Homo sapiens: one gene and its partner. The protein of the gene in region 1 purifies or fractionates together with the protein of each later gene. This does not show direct contact. Each region holds a gene or a part of one and is shown on either strand. Other genes may lie near its edges.

Region 1 (12,305 bases):
ACGTCATGGTGGTTTGCTGCACCCATCAACCCATCATCTACATTAGGCATTTCTCCTAATGCTATCCCTCCCCTAGGCCCCCATCCCCCAACAGGCCCCAGTGTGTGATGTTCCCCTCCCTGTGTCCATATGTTCTCATTGTTCAACTCCCACTTATGAGTGAGAACATGCGGTGTTTGGTTTTCTGTTCCTGTGTTAGTTTGCTGAGAGTGATGGTTTCCAGCTTCATCCATGTCCCTGCAGAGGACATGAACGTGTCCTTTTTTATGGCTGCATAGTATTCCATGGTGTATATGTGCCACATTTTCTTTATCCAGTCTGTCATTGATGGGCATTTAAGTTGGTTCCAAGTCTTTGCTATTGTGAACAGTGCTACAATAAACCTACGTGTGCATGTGTCTTTATAGTAGAATGATTTATTATCCTTTGGGTATGTACCCAGTAATGGGATTGCTGGGTCAAATGGTATTTCTGGTTCTAGATCCTTGAGGAATCGCCACACTGTCTTCCACAATGGTTGAACTAATTTACACTCCCAACAACAACATAAAAGCGTTCCTATTTCTCCACATCCTCTCCAGAATCTGTTGTTTCCTGACTTTTTAATGATTGCCATTCTAACTGGCGTGAGATAGTTTCTCATTGTGGTTTTAATTTGCATTTCTATAATGACCAGTGATGATGAGCTTTTTTTCATGTTTGTTGGCTGCATAAATGTCTTCATTTGAGAAATATCTGTTCCTATCTTTTGCCCACTTTTCAATGGGGTTGTTTGTTTTTTTCTTGTAAATTTAAGTTCTTTGTAGATTCTGGATATTAGCCCTTTGTCAGATGGATTGATTGCAAAAATTTTCTCCCATTGTGTGGGTTGCCTGTTGACTCTGATGATAGTTTCTTTTGCTCTGCAGAAGCTCTTTAATTTAATTAGATCCCATTTGTCAATTTTGGCTTTTGTTGACATTGCTTTTGATGTTTTAGTCAAGAAGTCTTTGCCCATGCCTATATCCTGAATGGTATTGCTTAGGTTTTCTTCTAGAGTTTTTATGGTTTTAGGTCTTACGTTGAAGTCTTTAATCCATCTTGAGTTAATTTTTGTATAAGGTGTAAAGAAGGGGTCCAATTTCAGTTTTCTGCATATGGCTAGCCAGTTTTCCCAATGCCATTTATTAAATACGGAATCCTTTCCCCATTGCTTGTTTTTGTTAGGATTGTCAAAGATCAGATGGCTGTAGATGTGTGGTGTTATTTCTGAGGCCTCTGTTTTGTTCCATTGGTCTATATATCTGTTTTGGTACCAGTACCATGCTGTTTTGATTACTGTAGCCATGTAGTATAGTTTGAAGTCAGGTAGTGTGATGCCTCCAGCTTTGTTCTTTCTGCTTAGGATTATCTTGTAAATTACTTTGGGCAGTATGGCCATTTTTATGATATTGATTCTTCCTATCCATGAGCATGGAATGTTTTTCCATTTGTTTGTGTCCCCTCTGATTTCTTTGAGCAGTGGTTTGTAGTTCTCCTTGAAGAGGTCCTTCACATCCCTTGTAAGTTGGATTCCTAGGTATTTTATTCTCTTTGTAGCAATTGTGAATGGGAGTTCCCTCACAATTTGGCTCTCTGTTTGTCTATTATTGGTATATAGGAATGCTTGTGATTTTTGCACATTGATTTTGTATCCTGAGACTTTGCTGAAGTTGCTTATCAGCTTAAGGAGATTTTGGGCTGAGATGATGGGGTTTTCTAAATAGACAGTGATGTTAATCTGCAAACAGAGACAATTTGACTTCCTCTCTTCCTATTGGAATACGCTTTATTTCTTTCTCTTGCCTGATTGCCCTGGCCAGAACTTCCAATACTGTGTTGAATAGGATTGGTGAGAGAGGGCATCCTTGTCTTGTGCCGGTTTTCAAAGGGAATGCTTCCAGCTTTTGCCCATTCAGTATGATATTGGCTGAGGGTTTGTCATAAATAGCTCTTATTATTTTGAGATATGTTCCATCAATACCTAGTTTATTGAGAGTTTTTAGCATGAAGGGGTGTTGAATTTTATCAAAGGCCTTTTCTGCATCTATTGAGATAATCATGTGGTTTTTGTCATTGGTTCTGTTTATGTAATGGATTACGTTGAACCAGCCTTGCATCCCAGGGATGAAGCCAACTTGATTGTGGTGAATAAGCTTTTTGATGTGCTGCTGGATTTGTTTTGCCAGTTTTTTATTGACGATTTTCGCATTGATGTTCATCAGGGATATTGGCCTGAAATTTTCTTTTTTTGTTGTGTCTCTGCCAGGTTTTGGTATCAGGATGATGCTGGCCTCATAAAATGAGTTAGAGAGGAGTCCCTCTTTTTCTATTGTTTGGAATAGTTTCAGAAGGAGTGGTATCAGCTCCTCTCTGTACCTCTGGTAGAATTTGGCTGTGAATCTGTCTGGTCCTGGGCTTCTCTTTTGGTTGGTAGGCTATTGCTGCCTCTATTTCAGAACATGTTATTGGTCTATTCAGGGATTCCACTTCCTCCTGATTTAGCCTTGGGAGGGTGTATGTGTCCAGGAATTTATCCATTTCTTCTAGATTTTCTAGTTTATTTTCATAGAGGTGTTTATAGTATTCTCTGATGGTAATTTGTATTTCTGTGGGATCGGTGGTGATATCCCCTTTATCAATTTTTATTGTGTCTATTTGATTCTTCTCTCTTTTCTTCTTTATTAGTCTGGCTAGCAGTCTATCTATTTTGTTAATCTTTTCAAAAAACTAGCTCCTGGATTCATTGGTTTTTTTGAAGGGTTTTCGTGTCTCTATCTCCTTCAGTTCTGCTGTGTTTTAGTTATGTCTTGTCTTCTAGGTTTTGAATTTGTTTGCTCTTGTTTCTCTACTTCTTTTAATTGTGATGTTAGGGTGTCGATTTTAGATCTTTCCTGCTTTCTCCTGTGGGAATTTAGTGCTATAAATTTCCCCTTAAACACTGCTTTAGCTGTGTCCCAGAGATTCTGGTATGTTGTGTCTTTTTTCTCATTGGTTTCGAAGAACTTATTTATTTCTACCTTATTTTTGTTATTTACCCCGTAGGCATTCAGGAGCAGGTTGTTCAGTTTCCAAGTAGTTGTGCATTTTTGAGTGGATTTCTTAAACCTGAGTTCTAATTTGATTGCAGTGTGGTCTGAGAGACTGTTTGTTATGATTGCCATTCTTTTGCATTTGCTGAGGAGTGTTTTACTTCCAATTATGTGGTCAATTTTAGGATAAGTGCAATGTGGTGCTGAGAAGAATGTATATTCTGTTGATTTGGGGTGGAGAGTTACGTCACTGTCTATTAGGTCTGCTTGGTCCAGGGCTGAGTTCAAGTCCTGAAGATCCTTGTGAATTTTCTGTCTCGTTGATCTGTCTAATATTGACAGTGGGGTGTTAAAGTCTCCCATTATTATTGTGTGGGAGTCTAAGTCTCTTTGTAGGTCTCTTAGAACTTGCTTTATGAATCTGGGTGCTCCTGTATTAGGTGCATATATATTTAGGGTAGTTAGCTCTTCTTGTTGCATTGTTCCCTTTACTATTATGTAATGCCCTTCTTTGTGTTTTTTGATCTTTGTTGGTTTAGAGTCTGTTTTATCAGAGACTAGGATTGCAACACTTGCTGTTTTTGCTTTCCATTTGCTTGGTAAATATCCTCCATTCCTTTATTTTGAGTCTGTGTGCGTCTTTGCACATGAGATAGGTCTCCTGAATACAGCACACTGATGGGTCTTGACTCTTTATCCAATTTGCCAATCTGTGTCTTTTAATTGGGGCTTTTATCCCATTTACATTTAAGGTTAATATTGTAATGTGTTATTTGATTCTGTCATTATGATGCTAGCTGGTTATTTTGCCCATTAGTTTATGCAGTTTCTTCTTAGTATCGATGGTCTTTACTGTTTGGTACGTTTTGCAGTGGCTGGTACCAGTTTTTCCTTTCCATATTTAGTGCTTCCTTCAGGAGCTCTTGTAAGGCAGGCCTGGTGGTGACAAAATCTCTCAGCATTTGCTTATCTGGAAAGGATTTTATTTCTCCTTCACTTACAAAACTTAATTTGGCTGGATATGAGATTCTAAGTTGAAAATTCTTTACTTTAAGGATGTTGAGTATTGGCCCCCACTTTCTTCTGACTTGTACGGTTTCTGCTGAGAGATCCACTGTTAGTCTGATGGGCTTCTCTTTGTGGGTAACCCGACCTTTCTCTCTGGCTGCCCTTAACATTTTTTTCTTCATTTCAACCTTCGTGAATCTGACGATTATGTGTCTTGGGGTTGCTCTTCTCGAGGAGTATCTTTGTGGTTCCTGAATTTGAATGTTGGCCTCTCTTGCTAGGTTGGGTAAGTTCTCCTGGATAATATCCTGAAGAGTGTTTTTCAACTTGGTTCCATTCTCCCTATCACTTTCAGGTACACCAATCAAACATAGAGATTTGGTCTTTTCACATAGTCCCATATTTGTTGGAGGCTTTGTTCGTTCCTTTTCATTCTTTTTTCTCTAATCTTGTCTTCACGCTTTATTTCATTAAGTTGATCTTCAATCGCTGATGTCCTTTCTTCCACTTGATCAATTCGGCTATTGATACTTGTGTATGCTTCACAAAGTTCCCTTGCTGTGTTTTTCAGCTCCATCAGGTCATTTATGTTCTTCTCTAAACTGGTAATTCTAGTTAGCAATTCCTCTAACCTTTTTTCAAGGTTTTTAGCTTCCTTGCGTTGGGTTAGAACATGCTCCTTTAGCTCCAAGGAGTTTGTTACTACCCACCTTCTGAAGCATACTTCTGTCAATTCATCAAACGCATTCTCCGTCCAGTTTTGTTCCCTTGCCGGCGAGGAGTTGTGATCCTTTGAAGAGAAGAGGCATTCTGGTTTTTGGAAATTTCAGCCTTTTTGTGCTGGTTTTTCCTCATCTTCTTGGATTTATCTACCTTTGGTCATTGTTGTTGGTGACCTTTGGATGGGGTTTCTGTGTGGACGTCCTATTTGTTGATGTTGATGCTATTCCTTTCTGTTAGGTTTATTTCTAACAGTCAGACCCCTCTGCTGTAGGTCTGCTGGAGTTTGCTGGAGGTCCAGTCCAGTCCCTGTTTGCCTGGGTATCACCAGCAGAGGCTGCAGAACAGCAAAGATTGCTGCTTGTTCCTTCCTCTGGAAGCTTTGTCCCAGAGGGGTACCCGCCAGATGCCAACCAGAGCTCTCCTCTATGAGGTGTCTATTGACCCCTGATGGGAGGTGTCTCCTAGGCAGGAGGCACAGGGGTCAGGGACCCACTTGAGGAGGCAGTCTGTCCCTTAGCAGAGCTTGAGCACTGTGCCGGGAGATCCGCTGCTCTCTTCAGAGCCGGCAGGCAGGAACGTTTGAGTCTGCTGAAGCTGTGCCCACAGCCGCCCCTTCCCCCAGGTGCTCTGTCCCAGGAAGATGGGAGTTTTATTTATAAGGTCCTGACTGGGGCTGAGGCAGCATTTTGTTTCCTTTTTTTGTCTTGGAGTGTTCATTCTTTATTCTTCACTAGACTGAACTTAGTTCTTAATCGTTCTTTTATCCTCAATATATTAATAGACTCTTGCTATCATAGGTCCTTATATTGTGAGTTAAGTGAATGAATTGTTGCTATCTTGGGAATTACTGCTTAATTTTTGTTTTCCTTCTAGGACCTCGACTGGATTTTGATCCTGACATTGTTGCAGCTCTTGATGATGATTTTGACTTTGATGATCCAGATAATCTGCTTGAGGATGACTTTATTCTTCAGGCCAATAAGGCAACAGGAGAGGAAGAGGGAATGGATATACAGTATGTGTGGTTTGTTTCAAAGCAGAGATGATGACCTAAGTGTTACTGCTTCAGTGGGATGGTAACCATAGAACGTTACAGTTGGAAGAGACCTTCAAGAGCATTTAATCTGAGACTTCTGTATTTTAGAGCAGAAAATGTGAGATTCATTGCTTTTCCTACCAAACCAGATTGATCAAACACCCTCACTCTTCCTGCCTAGACAAGAACCCTTCCTGAAATACCTTCCAATTTTACTTGTGTAAAGTGGTTTTGTTCTGTTACTTTTTAAGTTGTTTTGGTAGGTAATTTATGACCTTTACTTTAGGAAATCTGAGAATGAAGATGACAGCGAGTGGGAAGATGTGGATGATGAGAAGGGAGATAGCAATGATGACTATGACTCTGCAGGCCTATTGTCAGATGAAGACTGTATGTCTGTGCCCGGAAAAACTCACAGAGCTATAGCAGATCACTTGTTCTGGAGTGAGGAAACAAAGAGTCGCTTCACGGAGTATTCGATGACTTCCTCAGTCATGAGGAGAAATGAACAGCTGACCCTACATGATGAGAGGTTTGAGAAGGTAAGGTCCCCACATAAGGGATGCTTTAGTACTATCTTATGTTAAATTTTTTTTTTTAATACCTGTCAGCTTTAGCCCAGGTTGAAGTGCTCACCAACCACAAAGTCAATCATAGGAAGTTTACAACTATCCAGCTATAGGTTCGTGTAGCCAGCATAAAGCAGAAGGGTATCAGTGCAGTACAGGAGCACAAAGACTGCAAAGGGAGCATAGAACTGTGCAGAAGAAGAGTAATTGGTTAGGAGGATGTGACTTTTCCAATTTACATCACACGCTTACACCAGGAGGTGGCTCAAATGATGCCTCATTCAACCTGAATGGGTAACCAAAAGTAGCTGTAATAGTTTTATTCTCACTAACTGTGGTAGGACAACTCACTTGAGTTTCTATTTGGCCCTTAAAACCCCCAGAAGTGGCCCTTAAACCCTCACCATCTCTAATGTTGTGCTTCTTTATTATGTATGTCATATATGGATTTGTCTCAGATTAGAATGTGAATCCCCCAAGGGCAGAGAGTTTTTTATATTTTGCTCACGATACATCTGAAAGCCTAAAATGGTGTCTTGGCATGTAGTAGAAGTTTAAAGTGTTCCATAAATGATAAATGAATGAAGGAATAGTTTCCTTCAAGGTGACTCTAAAGATAGAAGCAGTCCACTCAAGGACCTTGACGAAGCCGAGCGGGTTGAGGTTGATCTGGAAACTGGAACATCCTCTGGCCAAGTCAGCTGATCCGCCCGCGAGCTAAGTAGATGTTAGGCGCCTTGCTGTGTGCCTTGTTTTTTTTTGTTATTTTTCTTTTTTTATTTTTTAAAAAGAGAGATTGGGACCCAAAGCTAAAACTTTTGAGTGTTGAAAACAGCGTATCTCTTTATTAAAACAGAGCATAAAAGCACCTTAGTTATTGTCGTTTTCCCTTTACATATTCTATGAGGCCAGTCACCCTAGTTTTGATTCTGGAAAGAACGTGTGTAGGTCAAAAGGAGTTGGCTGATCAAACGTTCTTATTTTCCCCCTTGAATTCTGACATCCTGATTCTGAATTTCTCCAACAGTAATCCATAAGATGCTATATTTCTGAAGTATTGGCCTGATTGAGCACATCAAAATTCCATTTCTTTCCGTTTCTCATCTGGTGTTTTCAGACATAACTAACACTGAGGAATAGAATGGAAGTAGAGTATAAGACACTTTTGAAAGCTTGTATTTTCATATACTCTATTTGGTTCTGTTGTAACAGATTAGCTCCAGGGTTTATAATCCCAACCTATAGACTGTTTATACAGGTTTTTAATCCCACCTATCCTGTTGTTTGTTCTGTAGCACATAACACCTCCTAACATCATCTCTAATGTTGTGCTTTATTATGTATGTTATATATAGATTTGTCTCAGATTAGAATGTGAATTCCCCAAGGGCAGAGAGTTCTTTGTATTTTGCTCACGGATACATCCAAAAGCCTAAAATGGTGTCTTGGCATGTAATAGAAGTTTAAAGTGTTCCATAAATGATAAATGAATGAAGGAATAGTTGCCATCCAGGTGAATCTAAAATAAAGGCTGTTACCTTGCTACCTTCTCACCTAATACTATTTTCCCTCTTCTCTTGAGGGAGAAACAAACTGTTGCTACAAATCTCACTCTTCAGGAGATATATCCCCCCCATTTACTCTTTGTCAAAGCTTAACAGTGTCAACACCATTTGCATAATATAGTAATTATTGTCTAAACAAGAACAAATATATACATTAGTAGGTGAATTTTCAGTTGCACAATCTTTTAGTTTGCATAACTAAGGAATATGAAAATATCTTTAGTCTAGGCGTAGTGTCTCGTGCCTATAATCTCAGAACTGTGGGAGGCCGAAGCAGATGGATCACTTGAGCCTAGGAGTTTGAGACTGTCTTGGGCAGTGCAGACCCTGTTTCTATTTAAAAAAATAAATAAAATGGCCTGGTATGGTGGCATGTGCCTGTGGTCCCAGCTGCTTGAGAGGCTGAGGTGGGAAGATTGCTTGAGCCTGAGAGTTTGAGGCTGCAGTGAACTATGATCACGCCACTGTACTCCAGGCTGGGAGACAGTGAGATACTTAAAAAAAAGAAAAAGTATCTTCAAAAATGTTCTGACGTAATCTGTGCTGCCTAGCATTTTGTTCTCCAAGCTGAGTGGAATAATGCCTTTCATTTACATGTTAAATGGAAGCCTATTTTTAGGCTAAATGTAAGTCTTAAAGTACTGAGCAGAAATATCTTCCACATCCTATTGTTGCATTAAATCCCTACTGATATTTTAATGGTAATTGTGATAGTACCTGAATAACTATTGTGTAAGAATAAAGTTAATGTAAAAAAATTTTTAAGTGTGTAGTCTTACTGAGTACATTTGCTTTTCATGGTATCTTTTCTCTGTTTATATTCAAGTTTTATGAGCAATATGATGATGATGAAATTGGAGCTCTGGATAATGCAGAATTGGAAGGTTCTATTCAAGTGGACAGCAATCGCTTACAGGAAGTTTTGAATGACTACTATAAAGAGAAGGCAGAGAAGTATAGTGACTTTTCCTTCCTTGTTTAGCTGTTCTTTTTTTTAAAAAAGAAAAAATTCCAAAGAAAGGTCTATAGTATAACTGAATTGAGGAAAAAATTAACCTAGTCAAAATACATATTGAGAAAATGAAAAAGGAAAAAAGAAAAGGGGAAAAAAAAAGATAGGGCGGAAAAAAGAAAGTGGTACATTTTCCATAAACTTGGGTCATGTATAGCTCATTGTTTTGCCTACATTTTGGTGTTAAATGTTCTGAAGTAGAACGTAATGGGAATATACGAGGAGCCACTTTCTCCGTATCTTTGACTGGAGAAGAGTCATGGTAGAATGTGTATTCGTTTATTAAATTTTTTTTTTTTTTTGAGACGGAGTCTTGCTCTGTTGCCCAGGCTGGAATGCAGTGGTGCGATCTCAGCTCACCTGCAACCTCCGCCTCCCAGGTTCAGGTGATTCTCCTGCCTCAGCCTCCTGAGCAGATGTGATTACAGGTGCACACCACCATGCCCAGCTAATTTTTGTATTTTTAGTAGAGATGGGGTTCCACCATGTTGGCCAGGCTGGTCTCAAACTCTTGACCTCATGTAATATGCCTGCCTCGGTCTCCCAAAGTGCTGGGATTATAGGTCTGAGCCACTGTGCCTGGCCAATTTTTAATTTTTTTTTAACTTTTATTTATTTTGCTTAAAAGTTTTGTTTTGATAGAAGCATGAATATTATTAGGGTGTGAAATATAAGGACAGGCTGGGCGTGGTGGTGTACACCTGTAATCCCAGCTGTTTGGGAGGCTGAGACAGGATCACTTGAACCTGGAAGGCAGAGGTTGCAGTGAGCTGAGATAGCACCACTGCTTCCAGCCTGGGTGACAGGGCGAGACTCTGTCTCAAAAAAAAAAAAAGAAATAAAGGGACACATTCCCCTTGGAAAATAAGATCGTGTTTCTAGTCTTTTGGGCTGAAGAATTATTCCAAGCATACGCTTTTTTCATCTTTCTGAAATGCCAGGTGTTCTGAGAAGTAGGTATTTACATCTCGTGGAAAGACAAGAATTTGTCTCTCCAGCTGGATTAGCGGAACTGACCAGCCAGTTATTTTGGCAAATCAGCATCCACATCAAGGTGACTCTTCTCTGAGAGAAACTGATGAAGTGTTCAAATCAGCTAGAAAGGTCTGATGTTCCATGATCACTATAATATATAGATCCCATAGCAGAAAAAGAAGCTATATAGTTGAGTGAAATATTCGAATACTTTGCAGAGACAGATGAGTTATGCTTTTTTAGGCTTTAAAAACCTGTTTTCTTAGGAAGCTGCCTTGGAAAGACACAGCTAGATGTTACCTTCCTATCAGCCGAGTGAATGTCCAAAACTCACTGGAGGGAAGAGGCAGGGCTGGGTAGAACAGAGTTTGACAGAAAATAACGGATGGGTCACTGGAATATGTGCATTTAAAACATTGGTTTTTCCACAGCTAAAAATTGCAGTTTTAGTGACATAGTATAATAATAGGTCATTTTTCCCCCTCTTGGTCTTCACTTTTAAAAACTCGTCTAAAAGTTGTGTAAAATTGAATACCCTTGAACCCTTGGAGGATCAAGACCTGCCAATGAATGAGCTTGATGAGTCTGAGGAGGAAGAAATGATTACTGTAGTCCTTGAAGAAGCCAAAGAGAAGTGGGATTGTGAATCTATTTGTAGTAAGTATATTCACTTTATGATAGTAATTTTAAAGTATTAAAGTATATCAACTTTAGGCTGGGTGCGGTGCCTCACGCCTGTAGTAATCCCAGCACTTTGGGAGGCCGAGGCGGGTGGGTCACCTGATGTCAGGAGTTCAAGACCAGCCTGGCCAACATGGTGAAACCCCGTGTCTACTAAAAAATACAAAAATTAGCCAGGTATGGTGGCAGGCAACTGTAATCCCAGCTGCTCGAGAGGCTGAGGCAGGAGAATAGCTTGAACCTGGGAGGCAGAGGTTGCAATGAGCCGAGATCATGCCATTGCACTCCAACCTGGGCAACAAGAGCAAAACTCTGTCTAAAAAAAAACATATATCAACTTTGAAAAAATACATATATTTTAATAAGAGTTAGGCTTTTAGGAAATTTGTGAAAAATTATTTGGAAAGAGTAATATTCCAATACTGAGTTGTAAGCAATTTATAAAACATTGATCAGAGACTCCAGTGTTATTTTGCACTATGAAAACACAAGGTCAGAAATATAGTAGGAATTCAGTAATGCTTTGTGGAACTGAAAACATGCTTACTGATACATGACTTTTATTTGTTTGTTTAGGTACATACTCAAATTTATATAACCATCCACAGCTTATCAAGTATCAACCAAAGGTAAGTCCTAGTGTGCTGAGCTATTTGAAGGATGCAGTGCATAAAAAATAGAGTGCACATTTTCGCACAATAACTTTTTATCTTTATGGCTAGAGTGATATTAGAAAAAGCATCAACAGTATGTCATTAATGAGCTATTTTTTAATAGGAATGAGAAGTAACTCTAGTACCATTTTATCTGTATTTCAGCCCAAACAAATTCGAATATCTTCTAAAACAGGAATACCTCTCAATGTCTTACCAAAGAAAGGACTCACAGCAAAGCAAACTGAAAGAATACAGATGATTAATGGCAGTGATCTTCCTAAAGTATCAACTCAGCCACGTTCTAAAAATGAAAGCAAAGAAGATAAAAGAGCAAGAAAGCAAGCTATAAAAGAAGAGCGCAAGGTAAAATATATTTTTCAAATGTGAGATTTACAAAGAGCTGGTGGAGGGGAAATTAGGGGAATTTTGTAAAAGCAGTCTGTATCAGTTTAAAGATGTGAATAATACAAGTATATTCTTGTACTTATAACAGGAACGAAGAGTGGAGAAGAAAGCTAACAAATTAGCATTTAAACTGGAGAAAAGAAGGCAAGAAAAAGAGCTGCTGAACTTGAAGAAGAATGTTGAGGGTCTAAAGCTATAGACAGTGGAGCATACAGGGCAAGGCACTTTATTAGGGGCTCCTCATCTTTGGTTATTGACTAGAAACTTCAGAAAGACAAAACTGTTTGCCATTTTTACTGGCAGATAAGAGGAAAATACAATATTTGTATTATTTTTATACTAGTAAGTGTCCCCTGCCAACCATCTTGTAAATATTGTAATACTTTAATTTTTAATATTATAAGCTTACATTTGCTCTGAAGTAAATGACTTCATGAATGTGAAATGTTTGATAAATTAAAGGAAAATATCTTCATAACGTGAATGGAATTGGTGTATTCATTTATTTGTATGGTTGTCATAGTTGTTTTTTGCAGATGTTTTCAAATATTTCTTTGAATCCTCTCCACGCCTTTTCAGGAATTACATGGTTTAATTTGCTGTAAATAGAAAAGTGGCCTGGTTA
Region 2 (12,305 bases), on another chromosome or scaffold:
TGTGTCTTCTATCTGCAGGGGATCTGCACGTTGTGTTAGACATGGCTAAAGTAGCTGATACCATCCTGTTCCTCCTTGATCCACTAGAAGGCTGGGACAGCACCGGTGATTACTGTCTTTCCTGCCTCTTTGCTCAGGGCCTTCCGACCTATAGTAAGTGAGTTAGCATTTATTGTGCACCTTTAATTTGTCAGGCACTATGCCTGGTATTTGATACAGGAATACAACTGATGGATCATATTCAGCTGGTGGTGGGATGTACACATATGGATTAAACTTGATCCATTGTTTACAGATTATCACTCAGGGTGTCTTTTTGTTTTTGGCTGTCCTTTGCCCAGAGAAACAAGGATATGAAGTTTGATTTCACTGTGAAATTCCTTCAGGGTAGTTCAGTGTTGGGCTTCCCAGTGATCTCTGGGCTTGCAACTGAGCTATTAGGTTGTTTGTGAACTGCAGAGGGATTTTTATGTAATGAAGCAGTAGGTCATGAAGCGTTTTCTCTTTCGCTTACAGCACTAGCTGTCCAGGGGATTTCTGGCCTCCCACTGAAGAAACAAATAGATACCAGGAAGAAGCTAAGTAAAGCAGTGGAGAAGCGCTTTCCGCATGACAAACTCCTCTTGTTAGACACTCAACAGGAGGCAGGGATGCTGCTTAGGCAGTTGGCTAACCAGAAGCAACAGCATCTTGCTTTTCGAGATCGGCGGGCCTACCTATTTGCCCATGCTGTTGATTTTGTTCCTAGTGAAGAGAATAACTTGGTGGGCACCTTGAAAATTTCAGGCTATGTTCGAGGGCAGACTCTGAATGTCAATAGGTTGCTGCATATCGTTGGATATGGTGATTTCCAGATGAAACAGATAGATGCCCCCGGAGACCCTTTCCCTTTAAATCCTAGAGGAATTAAACCCCAAAAGGACCCAGACATGGCAATGGAGGTAAGACTGATATTCTTAATTCATGTTCATATGAAAGTTGGCACAGGAAGGAAACTTAAATTCAGAGAAGATAGTCTGTACACTTAGGTGAATGAGGAGACTGCTAGTCTGAAGTAAGGCAATAGTCAGTTATAAATAGGTTGATAAATCACATATTTATCCAGCACTTTCTAGGTAGTCTGCACTGTGATTGGCTCTGAGTTTATAGAACACACTCAAGATGTGGTTGCTTTCCTCAAGGGACTTAATTGGGCTGGAACAAAATGGCATGTGTGAAATAAAGATTGAGATAGCATATGGTTAGAGTGCGGACCAGCAGTGGAAGTTGAGAAAGTAGACTAGCAAGCTTCACATAAGAGATCAGACTTGAGCTAGGTGTTGAGAAGGATAAATGTGATTTATGAGTTGAAGAGGGATAAAAGAATATCCTAGAAGATAAGAGACAGAATGAACCTAGGCACAGTGGTGGATCAAAGGGTTTATGTGAACCTTGAAGAAATCAGCTTGATGGGAGTGAGGTACGTAATAAATGGATAGGAGTGGGAGCAGATTAAGAAAGACCTCAAGAGCCAAGCAGAGACTTAAAATACCCTGGAAATTAGAAAACAGCCATTGGAAAAGTTTTGACAAGTTTTAGCATTCTGTCGCACTCATCTTATACATGAGGACTGATATTTCTGGGTCTTTCTGGTTACTGTGTTAGATTTAGGAGATTTTTGGTTCATGGTTGACTATCACCTGCTTTTGGTTTTCAGATTTGTGCTACGGATGCTGTAGATGATATGGAAGAAGGTCTTAAAGTCCTAATGAAGGCAGACCCTGGTAGACAGGAATCCTTGCAAGCAGAGGTTATCCCAGATCCAATGGAGGGAGAGCAAACCTGGCCCACTGAGGAGGAGCTGAGCGAGGCAAAGGGTCAGTATTGGTAAACTTGTCTGTAATTCATCTGACCTGGAATTGTGGATTTTCTGTAGCTGTTCCAAGTGAGGGCCCTATAGGATAGAGTGGGGTGGGGGTATAGTTGAAAGTCTCTCCTCACCCTCAAATGCTGTATGTTTTCAATAAACAAACATTATACACAGTCTTGTTCCATTTCTCAAAATTACTTGTGTTAATGTTTTATCATGAACAGATAAACAACTTTGGATTCATTGCAGGGCTTATTTAGCTGTGTAAGTATTGCTAGTTGTGAGGCAGCTGAATTAAATTTGGAAGTAGTTCTATTTACAGTGTCTGCCAGAATTTCCCATGTTGGCAGCAGTATCTGGTGCCTTGCCTAGGTGAGAATAACCAGAGGGATAGGGAAAAGAAGTCTGTAATTTACTTAATTTGTTTGGGCTTTTACAGATTTCTTGAAGGAAAGTTCTAAGGTGGTAAAGAAGGTCCCCAAAGGAACATCCAGTTACCAAGCTGAATGGATTTTGGATGGTGGCAGCCAAAGTGGTGGGGAAGGAGATGAATATGAATATGATGATATGGAACATGAGGATTTTATGGAGGAGGAATCTCAGGTAAGGAAATGAGGCCTTAGGCCAATTCTGTGTCTAGCTCCAAATGTAAGGCAAAGTGCAGGTGTGATCTTGATGGGTGTGTGTGGTTAGTTTCTTTTTTTTATTTTTTTTATTTTTTTTTTATGAGACGGAGTCTTGCTCTGTTGCTCAGGCTGGAGTGCAGTGGTGCGATCTGGGCTCACTGCAAGCTCTCCCTCCTGGGTTCACGCCATTCTCCTGCCTCAGCCTCCTGAGTAGCTGGGACTACAGGCGCCCACCACCATGCCTGGCTAATTTTTTTGTATTTTTAGTAGAGACGGGGTTTCACTGTGTTAGCCAGGATGGTCTCAATCTCCTGACCTCATGATCCGCCTGCCTTGGCCTCCCAAAGTGCTGGGATTACAGGCGTGAGCCACCGCACCCGGCCGTGTATGGTTAGTTTCTTAGGAATGACTCTGTAGTTGCCAGGAATGAGGCTTTTGTTTTATACTTTAGACTGTATTAGAATTTATGTTGGTTGGGAATAGGGATCTAGTACAATTATTTTACTCTTAGCTTATTGGCCTTTGGGGTAGAGACAGGTGTGGATTTCTTCTGAAAAAACTGTAATCCTATTCTACAGGATGAGAGTAGTGAAGAAGAGGAAGAATATGAAACTATGACTATTGGGGAGTCTGTGCATGATGATCTGTATGATAAGAAAGTAGATGAAGAAGCTGAGGCAAAAATGTTGGAGAAATATAAACAAGAAAGACTGGAAGAGATGTTTCCAGATGAAGTGGACACGCCCCGTGATGTGGCTGCTCGAATTCGGTTAGTCAACAAGTCTATCAACAAATCTAAATTCAGTCAATACGTTTTTAAAAACTTGGCTCAGAGCTGTGTCACTGTGATGCAAAAGAAGAAAAACACATTTTTTCTGCTCCTGAAGAGCTAACATTTAATATGGGAAGGCAGGACATACATACGGGAAATGGTCATATGTAATTAAGTTCTAGACTGTGGTGCAGACTCACGTTACAGGACTTGAATGAAGGGGAAATACTAAGGTTAATTAGCAAATACTTCTTCCCAAAGGAGCCAGTACTCAATTGAAGTATATAATGTTTGGAAATTTTAGGGGGTTTGGGTAGAATAGCAGAAGTAGAAGAGTGAAGAAGTAGATGATTATATCTGTTCTGGAGGTGAGTGACTAAAGCCAGTGAATTAATTTTGGATATTAGGAGGTAAGGCTATGTATTAGGCCATTCTCGCATGGCTATAAAGAAGTACCAGAGACTGCATAATTTATAAAGAAAAGAGATTTAATTGGGTCATGGTCCTGCAGACTGTACAGGAAGCATGGTGTTGGCATCTGCTCAGCTTCTGGGGGTGTCCTCAAGAAACTTACAATCATGGCAGAAGGTGGAGGGGGAGCAAGTCATGTCACACGGCCAGCGCAGTAACGAGAGCAAGGCAGGAGGTGCTACACACTTTAAACAACTAGATCTCATGAGAACTCACTCAACAAGGAGGGTGGTGCTAACCCACTCATGAGAAAACCTCTCCCCTAATGCAGTCACCTCCCACCAGGCTCCACCTCCAACACTGGGGATTGTATTTCAGTATGAGATTGGGGCAGGGAGACACATCTGAACTGTATCAGGCCATTACCAAGCATCTTTTTTGTCAGTGAGAAGCTTGGGTTTGGTTCCGATAGAACTTGTTATAAGCTGTTCGGAGTGTCGTCTTGGTTTAAGCTGTTGGGTTGTTTGGAGAGAGGATGATTGGAGTTCTTTTCAGCTAGCTCCTTAGCCATTTTAGCAGTGACTTGAGTCTATATAGCACCATATAAATCTGACTTAATGTCTTTAAAAATCTTCAATATTCTAGATTTCAGAAATACAGAGGCCTTAAGAGCTTCCGGACATCTCCATGGGATCCTAAGGAAAACCTTCCTCAAGATTATGCTCGAATATTTCAGTTTCAGAACTTTACTAACACTAGGAAAAGCATCTTTAAAGAGGTTGAAGAAAAAGAGGTTGAAGGAGCTGAGGTATCTATCCTCCTTGTTCATCTTGTATGTTGCTTTCATTTGTCAACATGCTCCCTACTTTATTCCTTCTCTTGGCATGAAAATATGCTGCATTTGGGGATTAGGGGAGCCCCTGAGTCATTGATTAGAATGATACTGGGAACAAAGAGGTATCAGCTATGTTAAATGAAAAAGTGTGATCTGGGTAAATGAAGCATCTTGAAGGATGAGGGTTGGCTTTAAAAATTTTATCTGAGAGACTCAACATATTTGGAGAAAGCTTCCTCGCTATTGGGACTTTGAAAGGTAACTCCATGATTGCTTTCTGCTTTCTTGTGGCAGGTTGGCTGGTATGTCACACTTCATGTCTCTGAAGTCCCCGTCTCAGTGGTCGAGTGCTTCAGGCAAGGAACACCCTTGATTGCATTTTCTTTACTACCTCATGAACAGAAGGTAAATTGCTGTCTTGTGGGAAAATGGGGGGTTGTGAAACTTTCCAGCTGCTTCTGACAGTCTAAAATTCTGTTTATGTGTGACTAAAATTTTGCTCATTGGGATGCAAAAAGTCTGCCTTTATGATTAGGAATTGGAGAATAATAGAGAAGTCAATGATGGTTTTATTCATATCGTCTGAACCTGTCTGAAGCATCTCAGTGATGCAATCTCTGTGTGGTTCTGAGACTTCTCCAAGTATGTTTTTCAGACCAGATTTTGAATAAGGGTTGGCAGCCTTAAAAATAAAGGTTTGGCTGGGCGCGGCGGCTCACGCCTGTAATCCCAGCACTTTTTGGGAGGCCAAGGTGGGTGGATCACCTGAGGTCGGGAGTTCGAGACCAGCCTGACCAACATGGAGGAACCCTGTCTCTACCAAAAATACAAAATTAGCCAGGCGTGGTGGCACATGCCTGTAATCCCAGCTACTTGGGAGGCTGAGGCAGAAGAATTGCTTGAACCCAGTAGGCGGAGGTTGTGGTGAGCCAAGATTGCACCATTGCACTCCAGCCTGGGCAACAAGAGCGAAACTCTTATGTCAAAAAAAAAAAAAGTTTATGCCAAAGTGCAGATCTCTTTTCTCTTGGTGGCCAGTAGTTGTGTATGTTGTGGGGTATGTGATAGTTCTTTGATCGGTTTTGGTAAGGGCTCAAGAAGAAGGGGCTTGAATGAGTGTGGTTTTGAGATTGTGGTGAGTGAATGCCTTGAAGGCCACTGATTTTTGTGTGGCAGATGTTGAGCTCTTTTCTGTTAGGTGCAGGAAGGTAGGTTAGCATTGAAGGGTGCATGAAAGCTCTGATCAGCCTGTGTTTGGCTTAAATGCCAGTCATTGGTGGAGGTAAAGGATGAACCCGTGTTTCAGCATCTACACTCCACCATTAATTAGCATTGTCAGTTCTTAGAATGAGTCTGAATCTGCTAGTTTGGTTTGCCTTCTTTCAGTTTAGGCAATTGTATTCCTAGACTATGAAGATTTTTGTTTTTCTTACTTGGTCCCCAGATGTCAGTATTGAATATGGTGGTGAGGCGTGACCCTGGCAACACTGAACCTGTGAAAGCCAAGGAAGAGCTCATATTTCACTGTGGATTCAGGCGCTTCCGAGCCTCACCTTTATTCTCTCAGCACACTGCAGGTTAGCAATGGGGAAGCTGGGTTCTTGTCCATCTTGTCTTTTGGGAAAGTGACTTGTGGTGGAGGGGTGCCAAAATATATGGTTTCAAAATCTTACATCTCTGGGTTAGAGGTATTTTCAGTACTCTGGCTTAAGAGCCAATGATGTTTTTATTCAAAATGTCTGAACCTGTCTGAAGCATCCCAGTGATGCAACTTCTGTGTGATACTGAGGCTTTTTTGCCATGAGTATTTGTTCCATAGCAGGTTTTGAATAGAAGTTGGCAGCTTTATAAAAAGGGTATTAGGGTGGGTGCAGTGGTGCAGTGGTTCACACCTGTAATCCCAACACTTGTGGCATTAGAACGGGGAATTGAAGACCAAAAAAGGTAAGATTTAATCTTGTTTTTGTTTCTGTTTTTTTTTTTTTTTTTTTTTTTTTTTTGAGACGGAGTCTCACTCTGTCGCCCAGGCTGGAGTGCAGTGGCGCGATCTAGGCTCACTGCAAGCTCCGCCTCTCAGGTTTACTTACACCATTTTCCTGCCTCAGCCTCCCAAGTAGCTGGGACTACAGGCGCCCGCCACCATGCCCAGCTAATTTTTTGTATTTTTAGTAGAGACGGGGTTTCACCGTGTTAGCCAGGATGGTCTCTATCTCCTGACCTCGTGAGCCGCCCGCCTCAGCCTCCCAAAGTGCTGGGATTACAGGTGTGAGCCACCGCGCCCCCTCTTGTTTTTTTTGTTTTTTTTTGTTTGTTTGTTTGTTTGTTTTTTTGGAGACGGAGTCTTACTCCGTTGCCCAGGCTGGAGTGCAATAGCGTGATCTCGGCTCACTGCAACCTCCGCCTCCCGGGTTCAAGCAATTCTCCTGCCTCAGCCTCCCGAGTAGAGTAGTTGGGACTACAGGCATGCACGACCATGCCCAGCTAATTTTTGTATTTTTAGTAGAGATGGGGTTTCACCATGTTGGGGTTTAGTAGAGATGGGGTTTCACCAAGACCAGGAGTTCAGGCTGGTTTTGAACTCCTGGTCTCAGGTGATCCGCCCACCTCGGTCTCCCAAAGTGCTGGGATTACAGACATGAGCCAATGTGCCTGGCCTCTTTTTTTTTTTTTTTTTTTTTGAGACCGAGTCTCACTCTGATGCTCAACTGGAGTGCAATGGTGCAATCCAGGCTCACTGCAACCTCTGCCTTCCAGGTTCAATCAGTTTTCCTGCCTCAGCTTCCCGAGTAGCTGAGATTACAGGCACCCGCCACCACGCCTAGCTAATTTTTGTATTTTTAGTAGAGACGGGGTTTCACCATGCTGGCCAGGCTGGTCTCGACCTTAGGCGATCCTCCTGCCTTGGCCTTCCAAAGTGCTGGGATTACAGGCGTGAGCCACTGCGCCTGGCCAGTCATTCTTTTATTGTTTCAAAATGGTTTTGATTTTTTTTTTTAGGATGAACTATTTTCATATTTTATACAGTTGGGAAAATAAGGAATAATGTAAAAGTAAAATTACCTTATATTAGAGAAAATTCATTTTTATTTTATACATTTTCATCCAGATCTCATTTTTTTTCTTTACACAATTTGGATTGTAATTGTAAATATGGTGTTAAACATTGCATTTATCACTTAATTGATTTTGATCAATTTTCCATAAGATTAATTAGTTAATGAGACTTTTAATGCTTTATTGTCATTTGGATATATTCCAGTGTATGTGATGTACTGATACTTATTTGAGCTTCTACGGGTGAGCACTTAGGCTATTTCTAATGTTTTGCTCTAAACTAGATCTGTATGCATAAAACTTTATTTACTTCTTTGCTTATTTTGTAAAGGCAGATCCTTAGAACTGGAACTAAATAAAAGTCTCAGTTGCAGAGACTGAGGCAGGAGGATCGCTTGAGGTCAGGAGTGTGAGACTCCGGTCTCTACAATTTTTTTTTTTTTTTTTTTGATATAGAGTCCAACTCTGTCACCAAGGCTGGAGTGCAGTAACATGATCTCAGCTCATTGCAGCCTCCCCGTCCCAGGTTCAAGTGATTCTGGCGCCTCAGCCTCCCAAGTAGCTCGGACCATAGGTGTCTGCCACCACGCCCAGCTACTTTTTGTATTTTTAGTAGAGATGGGGTTTCACCAAGTTGGCCAGTCTGTTCTCAAACTCTTGACCTCAGGTGATCCACGTGCCTTGGCCTCCCAAAGTGCTGGGATTTATAGGGATGAGCCAACATGCCCGGCCTCTACGAAAAAAAAATTTTTTTTTTTGGGAGATGGAGTTTCACTCTTGTTGCCCAGGCTGGAGTGCAGTGGCAGGATCTTGGCTCACTGCAACCTCTGCCTCCTAGGTTCAAGTGATTCTCCTGCCTCAGCCTCCCAAGCAGCTGGGATTACAGGCGTGTACCACCATGCCTAGCTAATTTTTCTATTATTAGTAGAGATAGAGTTTCACCATCTTGGCCAGGCTGGTCTCAAACTCCCGACCTCAGGTGATCCACCCGCATTGGCCTCCCAAAGTGCTGGGATTACAGGCATGAGCCACTGCGCCCGGCCAAAAATTTTTCTTTTTAATTAGCCAGGTGTGGTGGCATGTGCTTTGCAGTCCCAGCTACTTGGGAGGCTGAGGCAAGAGGGATTGCCTGAGCCAGTGGGCCCAGGAGTTTGAGGCTCCAGTGAGCTGTGTTCACACCACAGCCCTTAAAATATTTTATTTTCCTATAAGTTTAGTATTTTTAAAAGGGGGGTGAGGGCTACATTGAAGGTAGAACACCAAATACAGTCTAGCCTAGATAGCAGAGTGAGACACTGTCTCTCAGAATTTAAAAGGGTGTGATAAAGTGTGGAAACTTTGATGTCTAGTGTGCCAAGGGCAGTGTGGGTGAAGGAATGGAGGCTGGGTATGGCTCATAGTTGGGTAAAGCAGAGGTAGGGGTCCTGAGATACTGAGAGACTACTGGACGGGACTTGCAGCAGAAATGATTGTCTCCTACACAGTAGGAGCAGGAAGATATGTTGCCCACTAACTTGGGGGCTTCTGAACATCGTCCTAGTTCACTCACTCTCAGCAGTGGCAGGAGGAATATGAAGAAAGCAGTATTAATGGTGTTTTGGATAATTTTTATTCTCACCAATTGTGAGAATCACAATCTCTAAGTGAGATTAATTTTTCTTTGCCTTAAAATATTTTATTTTCCTTTAAGTTTAGTATTTTAAAAAGGAGGTGAGGGCTACCTTGAAGGTAGAACATCAAATACAGTCTAGGCTCCAAGATTCTGACTCCAGATAAAAAAGTTACTGATCAGGCACCTGCAATTCCAGCTATTCGGGAGCCTGAGGCAGAAGAATCACTTGAACCTGGGAGGTGGAGGTTGCAGTGAGCAGAGATGGCACCATTGTACTCCAGCCTGGGCAACAAGAGCGAGACACCATCTCAAAATAAATAAATAAATAAAAAGTTACTGATACAGCCTGGCGCGGTGGCTCACGCCTGTAATCCCAGCACTTTGGGAGATTGAGGTGGGTGGATCACAAGGTGAGGAGTTCGAGACCAGCCTGGCCAACATGGTGAAACCCGGTCTCTACTAAAAATACAAAAATTAGCCGGGCGTGGTGGCATGTGCCTGTAATCCCAGCTACTCAGGAGGCTGAGGCAGGAGAACTGCTTGAACCCGGGAGGCAGAGGTTGCAGTCAGCTGAGATCACACCATTGCATTCCAGCCTGGGTGACAGGAACGATACTCAAACTCAAAAAAAAAGAAAAAAAAAAAGTTACTGATAGGACTAGATCGTATCTTTTAGGTGCATTGAGGCAGCGAAAATTTTTGAGAACTGGTGGTTTAGAGAAGTAGAAGCTGCCATAGGTTTAAGAGTTGCACTAATACAGCTTTTCACAGGCCTCTATCACCTCTGGTTTCTCAAAATGGTTTTGCTTTTCATTTTTTAACCCTTATGGCAGCGGACAAACATAAATTGCAGAGATTCCTGACTGCTGACATGGCCCTGGTGGCGACAGTCTATGCGCCAATCACTTTTCCTCCTGCATCTGTGCTGCTTTTCAAGCAAAAAAGCAATGGTAAGTTGAGCCACAGAGATGAACAGACCCTGCAGGTCCTTAATAGATGAACACCGTTTTCTCTTGTTTATTTAAATTTGGGAGCCAAATGGTATGGAGAAGGTAATGATGGTTTTCAAAATACAGTAAGTCTTCATTTAACATTGTTAATAGAACAATGAAAACTCCAACTTTTACGTGAAACAGTGTATAGCCAGTCCTCAAATAACTGCCTTTTGTTCAACATCCTTTCCTTGTAACAACTGATGAGAAAAAGTATGGTTTTGTTATACATCATTTCTCTTGAAGTACAAGTTTTCAAGAACCTATTGACAAGGTTAAGTGTGGGCTTACAGTTTACCAATCTTAGCCTCAGATTGGGCTAGGGCAGGGATGACAAACCAGGCTCTTGCATGGGTCTTTAAATGGACTGGGCAATAAATGAAGACTTTGGCCTGTAAATTCCTAAATAGCTTCTTTGCTTTTGTCCTTTAGGAATGCACAGCCTCATTGCTACAGGCCATCTTATGTCAGTAGATCCAGACAGAATGGTCATCAAGAGAGTTGTTCTGAGTGGTCATCCTTTCAAAATTTTTACTAAGATGGCAGTAGTACGTTACATGTTCTTCAACAGAGGTGGGTATGAAGGAGGAGGATGGGATCTGATTGCCTTTGTGGTATAAAGGTTGGGTTTACATTTTGTGGGTAAATGTTTCATCTTGGTCTTTAATGTGTTTGATTCTAAGAGGATGTGCTGTGGTTTAAACCAGTGGAACTGAGAACGAAGTGGGGCCGGAGAGGACATATCAAGGAACCTTTAGGTAAGGAAACACGGGATTTGAGACCATGTCTGCATTTCTGCAGTGTTGCTAAATGACTGTTGGGTTGGAAGTCATTGCTTTAAAATTTTCTACTTTTAATTTGACCGACTTGTTCTGATGTCTTTCTAGGTACCCATGGCCACATGAAATGCAGCTTTGATGGGAAGCTAAAATCTCAAGACACAGTACTGATGAACCTGTATAAACGAGTCTTCCCCAAATGGACTTATGATCCATATGTACCAGAACCAGTACCCTGGCTGAAAAGTGAGATTTCTTCAACAGTGCCTCAAGGGGGCATGGAGTAATGGATTCAAAGAGATTCTGTCTTACCGGTGCCAGTCAGTACTCCAGGGATGGGAGGCACAAGTTGTGATTGGGCAAAGTTTATTTTCTATGTCAGCCTGTCAGTCCACTGCCCCATTTTGCAAGACTTTTTTTTAGCCTTGACAAAATGTCTCAGTTAAGTATAAAAGTTTTTCCACTACTTAGTCCAAAAAAAACTATTAAATCTTAATGAAATAGCCACTCTCCATTAAGAATCTGATAACTAAGAGTTGACAATACTAGGAAACAAAATGTCTTCAGTATCTAAAGACACTGAATTCCCACCATTTCCTTTTCTGTAAATTAAACAGAAACAGACTGATAAGAAGCTGGCCTTTCAGCCTGCTTCACCCAAGTTATGGAGGAGGTTAAGTCTACATTTCCACCACTGAGCACAATACAAATGTTCTTTACTTCTGGGGAAACAGTTTGAAAATGTTGAGACAGCACAGCAGCCACTCCAACACCAGCTGTAGGTTCAATGAGTAGTTTCATCCTCTCCCACACCAGCTGGGTTGCACACTGTTGATATGGAAGGGAGTAGGAATTAGTGAAAGGGGAGTCTAGTTGGTTTACCTATAAAGTTCAGATGAGAATACGTGTCCAGTTTGAATTTTCTTATCACTGTGTACACACGCTTCCCAAAGCTTTTCTTTAATTCTGACTCTGCTTCTGTCAAGAGGGTTGTCATTAATACATCTAGGGTACCCTCCCATGTCATGAAGTTACCTAGTCAGGTTCCCGTGGGTCACTTGCTACTCCTAAGGGAAGTTTCTTCTGCCTAAGAAGTTACACCATGCTTTGCTATTTCTTTTCTTGCTGGAGCCTCACCTTAATTTCATCCTCTGTGACAGTGAAGATATCATCCACAAGGTCCCTGATAATAGGCCAGGTGTTCAAGCCAATGCTGGATTTGACACCATCTGCTATGGTTTCTGGAGGATAAAGATTGGGCATCAGTTTCCCCTTCAGCTTGGACTGGTAGCAGTCATCTGCATTTGAGGGTTCAGCAGCATATACCTTCACACTAGGTTTCAGAGCCTGGGAAGAGGAATATTAAGACATCTTA

Evidence for each region.
Region 2: the proteins of LTV1 (region 1) and TSR1 purify together in Homo sapiens (co-immunoprecipitation; 5 studies listed by BioGRID and IntAct, with this or other methods). This does not show direct contact.

Annotation. Positions count from the first base shown.
Region 1 is NC_000006.12:143,851,649-143,863,953, forward strand, and holds the end of LTV1 (protein LTV1 homolog), read left to right. Parts: intron 1-5,654; coding exon 5,655-5,796; exon of another isoform or gene 5,797-5,933; coding exon of another isoform or gene 5,934-5,935; intron 5,936-6,103; coding exon 6,104-6,359; intron 6,360-8,777; coding exon 8,778-8,905; intron 8,906-10,455; coding exon 10,456-10,595; intron 10,596-11,195; coding exon 11,196-11,248; intron 11,249-11,437; coding exon 11,438-11,638; intron 11,639-11,768; coding exon 11,769-11,879; 3' UTR 11,880-12,164; downstream 12,165-12,305. UniProt on the Homo sapiens protein: Essential for ribosome biogenesis.
Region 2 is NC_000017.11:2,323,108-2,335,412, reverse strand, and holds part of TSR1 (pre-rRNA-processing protein TSR1 homolog), read left to right. Parts: intron 1-18; coding exon 19-153; intron 154-516; coding exon 517-941; intron 942-1,696; coding exon 1,697-1,856; intron 1,857-2,288; coding exon 2,289-2,452; intron 2,453-3,053; coding exon 3,054-3,244; intron 3,245-4,303; coding exon 4,304-4,466; intron 4,467-4,787; coding exon 4,788-4,898; intron 4,899-5,042; exon of another isoform or gene 5,043-5,134; intron 5,135-5,937; coding exon 5,938-6,070; intron 6,071-6,202; exon of another isoform or gene 6,203-6,288; intron 6,289-9,992; coding exon 9,993-10,109; intron 10,110-10,148; exon of another isoform or gene 10,149-10,583; coding exon 10,584-10,724; exon of another isoform or gene 10,725-10,834; coding exon 10,835-10,909; exon of another isoform or gene 10,910-11,038; coding exon 11,039-11,217; 3' UTR 11,218-11,539; coding exon of another isoform or gene 11,540-11,758; 3' UTR 11,759-12,067; coding exon of another isoform or gene 12,068-12,277; 3' UTR 12,278-12,305. Other genes in the region: SRR (serine racemase), read right to left, coding at 11,540-11,758, 12,068-12,277. UniProt on the Homo sapiens protein: Required during maturation of the 40S ribosomal subunit in the nucleolus.